2 separate regions of the Homo sapiens genome follow, and region 2 is linked to region 1. The links come from fine-mapping of genetic effects on gene expression. Tissue or cell type: fibroblasts. Region 1 holds a variant in brackets; the other region holds the start of a gene. All regions are shown on one strand. Distances are from middle to middle.

What was found. PIP is the estimated chance that this variant, and not a neighbour inherited with it, causes the effect.
Region 2: it holds the start of RERG, and the variant in region 1 is fine-mapped to the expression of RERG in fibroblasts (GTEx, PIP 0.97).

The regions. Positions count from the first base shown.
Region 1 is chr12:15,294,268-15,296,957 of GRCh38, forward strand. The region is part of intron 2 of LOC105369673 (a long non-coding RNA gene); the gene reads right to left. Among named protein-coding and RNA genes, the nearest start is that of PTPRO, 27 kb to the right of the region's middle. The variant C/T (reference allele first, on the strand shown) is at 1,430.
Region 2 is chr12:15,219,802-15,222,491 of GRCh38, forward strand. It overlaps RERG (RAS like estrogen regulated growth inhibitor), which reads right to left and starts at 1,616. Exons shown (of 5, transcript NM_032918.3): 1 at 1,394-1,616. It overlaps LOC124902886, which reads left to right and starts at 867. Exons shown (of 1, transcript XM_047429948.1): 1 at 867-2,177. The coding sequence starts at 1,444. The coding sequence ends at 1,761.

The DNA.
Region 1 (2,690 bases):
ATGTATAGCAAGATCAAGGGACTTTTTCTTACTGATGTTTATTTTGATAAAATGTTATATAAAATGGGAAGCAGAGCAAGATGGCTGAATAGAAGCCACCACTGATCATCCTCCCCACAGGAATACCGAATTTAACAGCTGTTAATATCTTCATTAAAAAAGCACCTTCATAAGCACCAAAAATCAGACAAGTGATTGAAGTACCTAGATTTAACTTCATATCACTGGAAGAGGCCCTGAAGAGGGTAGGAAAGACAGTCTTGAATTGCCAATGCCACCCCTCCCCACTCCCTGGCAGCAGCCGTGTGGCACACAGAGGGAATGTGTGCACTTAGGGGAGAAAGTGCAGCAATTGTGGGTCCTTGCATTAGAACTCAGTGCTGCAAACACTGGTTGGAACTCAGTCAATGCCCATGGGGGGAGCATTTAGATTAGCCCTAGCCAGAGGGAAATCACCCATCTCATCAGCCAGTACTAGAGTTTTGTCAAGCCTCACCACCACAGGCTAAAGTGCTCTGGAGTTCTAAATAAACTTGAAAGACTGTCTAGGCCACAGTGACTGCAACTCCTATGCAAGCACTAGTGCTGTGCTGTGCTTGGAGCCAGTGGACTTGGTGGGCATGAGCCCTAATGAGACACCAGCAGAGGAAGCTAAGGGAGTTTTTGCATCACCATTCCCCAACATCAGGGCATGATTCACAGCTCCAAAAGAGACCAGTTTCTTCAACTTGAGGATAACAGAAAGAAGAGTAAAGAGGACTTTGTCTTGCAAATTGGATACCAGCTCAGCCACGGTAGGAGAGGGCACGGGACAGAGTCATAAGACCCACATTCCAGGCCCTAGCTCCTGGATGACATTTCTGGACACTTGCTCCCTTGCAAGGAAGGACCCAATCCTGCAGGATTTATTACCACCTGATGACTAAAGAGCCCTTGGTCCCTGAAAATCAGCAGCAGTACTTATGCAGTACTCACCATGGGACATGGGTTTGACTCTGGCATGCGCTGACTTCAGGTTTGATCCAGGACAGTTCCAGTGCTGGTGGCCACAGGAGTGATGTGTCACCCATCCCCCAGCTCTGGGTGTTCATCACAGAGAGAGACTAGGTTTGTTTGGGAAAAAGTAAAGGAAGAGTGCAAAAGTCTCTTCCTGGTAATCCAGAGAATTCTTCCAGATCTTATCCAAGATCACCAGGGTGATACCTCTGCCAATTGGTAAGAACCGCAGCATTACTGGACTTGGAGTACCCCCTAATGCAGATACAACTGTAGTGAACAAAAACTTAAATTCCAACACCCAAGTCCTTTTGAATACCTGGAAAGCCTTCCAAAGAAGAACAGTTACAAAAAAGTTCAGACTGAAAAGACTATAATAAAATACTGAACTCTTCAATGGCCAGACACCAACTAACAATCACAAGCATCAAGA[C/T]GATCCAGGAAAACATGACCTCACCAAACAAACTAAATAAGAAATCAGAAACAAATTCTGGAGAGACAAACATATGTTACCTTCCACACAGATAATTCAAAATAGCTGTGACAACATTTAGCTCTGTATTCCCACCTAAATCTCATGTCAAATTGTCATTCCCAGTGTTGGATAAAGGGCTTGCTGGAAGGTGACTGAATCATGGGTACAGACTTCCCTCTTTCTCTTCTCATGATAGAGTTCTCATGAGATCTGGTCATTTGAAAGTGTGTAGCCCCTCCCCTTTCTCTCTCTCTTCCTCCTGCAGGCCATGTAGGATGTGCCAGTTTCCCCTTCACTTTCCATCATAATCGTAAGTTTCCTGAGGCCTCCAGAGCCATACTTCCTGTACAGCCCGAGGGACTCTGAGTCAATGAAATCTCTTTTCTTTATAAATTACCCAGTCTCAGGTAGTTATTTATACTGGCTTGAGAATTAACTAATACAAGCTATTCTGAGAAAACTTAAAGAAATTCAAGGTAACATAAAGAAGGGATTCAGAATTCTAACAGATAAATTTAACAAAGAAATTGAAATAATTAAAAAGAATCAAGTAGAAATTTTGGAGCTGAAAAATGGAAGTGACCTACTGAAGAATACATCATGCCTACACGATCTAGAAAATAGCCTTAAAAGGAGAAATCTAAGAATTATTGGTTTTCAAGAGGAGGTAGAAAGATCTAGGTAGAAAGTTTATTCAAAAGGATAATAACAGATAACTTCACCAACATAGAGAAAGATATTTAATGCAAAAAAGTTATAGAAGACCAATATTTGAGTACAAGAAGGTTATAGAAAACCAAGAATATTTAACCCAAAGAAGATTAACTCAAGGCATTTAATAATCAAACTCCTAAAGGTCAAGGATAAGTAAAGGAGTCGAAAAGCAGCGAGAAAAAAGAAACAAGTAACATAAAGCGGAGCTCCAATACACCTGGCAGCAGACTTTTTAGTGGAAACTTTATAGGCCAGATGAGATTTGCATGACATATTTAAAGTGCTGAAGGAAAAAAAATAAAACTTTACTCTGGAATAGTACATCTGGCAAAAATATCCTCCAAACATGAAGGAGAAATAAAGACTTTCCCAGATAAACAAAAGCTGAGAGATTTCATCAACACCAGACCTCTCCTATGAGAAATGCTAAAGGGAGTTCTTCAAACTGAAAGAAAAGAACATTAATGAGCAATATGAAATCAAGTGAAGGTTCAAAACTCATTGG
Region 2 (2,690 bases), 74 kb before region 1:
TAATGTTTCATGAAAGTAGCCATCAAATGTGATTTTAAAAAAATGACAAGTCACATTTTTTAGTAACTCCCAAATGGCCCCAGAGGCATAGGAATTTCACATAAGAAAGAGAAATTGTGTGGGCTATTTTTTCCATTTATAACCTAATAAAGATACAGCTGGTTATTGTCAACCTAATTTTATGTTTAGAAAAATCACTTAAAGGAAGACACAAAACTGACAGGAGTTCTTCAACATTTTATTTCTCACATGAAAATGTGAAAAGTTACATTTGACAAGATAGAAAACAAAAATAAATATGTAAATTGTTGTAATAAGTAAACTGTTGCCAAGTTTCTGATGTTCCAAATAATTCATAATCTGAGAGCTTCCATACGTGGATCTAAGAAAATCCATTTGTCCTAATGTTCTGCTGAAATATTCTGAGTAGGGCTGAAATTTGCCATTCACTTTTTATGTGGATGGTGCTTATTAGGACAAAAACATCTCAGCTGCTATCACTCTAAAGGTAAAATCATACCTATTTAGTTTGAAGGTGTAGGTTTTTTTTTCCCTAAACATAAATTAAAGGAAAAAGGAAAAACGCTAGCTAAAATCCTGTATTATTAGTGATGCATTCATTGATTTATTCCACACTTTCACGCTATGCACATACAAATAAAAGTAGTTCCCTTCGAAGAGCTTACACTCTGTTAGACCTATGATATTTAGATAACTGTAACCTTATTTACTTACTTATTTAAAGAAAGTTTTCATTCCTAATAAATCATTCTCAAGGCTATATTTATCAAGGTTCATGCTTTCTACTTCCTCTTGGGGGTGGGGCAAGCAAGCGTCTTTATAAGGTAATCATGCTTGGAACTTCTGTTTGCATGCGCTCATCAAAATCAAGTGTAGCTATTTAGGGAAGCAAAGACCCTAGTCTAGGCCTGGAAATGAGATTCTCTTCTTTTTTGGCCTCCCCTTCTCTGGTTCTGAAATCAAGTTTTCCTGGTCTCATTACTAGGAATTCTTCCTCTTCTTATCACTACGCAGTACCCACAGCAAACCAGGATAATTGTATAAGCCCCTTGGCTATTTAATGTTGCTCTGAACTCAACAGGTATCTTGCAAGAATAAACAAATCCATTGTGGACTGCAAGTCACTTGCTTTCAGGCTAGGGAGAAAATGCAGCCTTAAGTCAAAAGGGCATTTTCCCTCTCAGCTAGGAGAGCCCTGTCAAGATAGGCTGCTGGTGTTCACATCTCCCTCGCAGCGAACCCCAAAGCCGCCCTGGGAGGAGAACCCGGTGACCAAGAGGACCGACTCAGAGGCCGAGCGCGCTCAGGGCTCGGAATGGGTCTGCAGGAAGTCGTCCCGAAAGAGCTGCCTGGACACGTGCGTGACACTCACCTGTTCACACTCTCCAGGCCAGGAGAGCTACGGTCCTCTGCAAGTTCGGAATGGGTCCCCCAAGATCGCGAAGCCCTCCCACACTGCGCAGCCCAGGCTTCAGGTTGCGTTTGCGAGTTGCTGGGCTGCGGTCGTGGGTGGGACTCGCCGCAGAAGCAAGTGCCAGTGGCCCGGCGGGGGTCTCCTCACTCGCGCTCGCTCCGACTAGCGGCGGAGGGACTGCGGCAGGACGCGAGCTGAGCCCGGCCAAGGCCGCTGCGCTCAGCGGCCAGGATGCTGCAGTGCGGCGCTTCGGCGCCCCCTACTGGGGGCAGGGGCAGGCTCCTCCCGCCGCGCTGCCTCCCAGGCTTGCGAGCTTGGGTCTTTAACGTGCTGCACCCAAGACGGGCTTCCCTTTTTCACTGGTTATTTCCAAGCCTCCAGGCTCCCACCGAAGGGCGGCTTTCCTCGGTCAAAACCTTGCCTAAGAAAGCATCACTACGTGGTGTTTTCTATTCCTTATTTCAAATGATCCTCGCAATATCTCTTTGAAGTATCTTTAATTATCTCCATGATACCCAAGAGGAAACTGAAGGAGAAGGTAACGCAAGGCTAGTAAATGGCTGGAATGAAATCCAGACTGGATTGGGAACTGAGAGATGCTAGGAAAAACAAACAAGGAATTCAATTGAAATTCTATTCATATATTTGAGAAAGTTCCAAAAGCTTCTCGTCCTCCTTACAGGATCAGCATTTATAGGATTTGCATTGGAGTCATACTCCATTATGCTCAGACCCTAACAAAGACAATTAATATGCGAGCTGTGCTGGACCTGCTTTCATATCCCTCATCTGATTTGATTTTTACACCCTCTCTTCATGTAAGAACTAGTATTATAATTACTAGCCTTTCACAGATGAGGAGGTGAGCTTCAGAGAGGCTAAATGATCTCCCAAAAACTGAAACATCTGAGCAAAGAAGCAGGAGGCACTTATGTTATTGTTTTTCCCTTATAAATCTGGGTATTCTTACCAAGATACCAAACGGCTTCCAGAAAACCAGTGTTATATAGAACAGACAGGGGCCTAGGGCAAACTGAACGATCTGTAGAATGTCATCAATGGGAAGGGAGGTAACCATGGAGGCAATTTCCAGAGTCCAGACTGACCTGGAAGGTCACTGCAGCCACGAGTGAATGGCTGAATGGAACAGCTAGATCTATGGCAAAAAGAGGAGTTGCCTAGCTGAGCAGGAGCTGCCCTGCTGGTTCTTTGAGAAAGCTCAAACATTGTATGGTTTATGAGTTTCCTGATCACT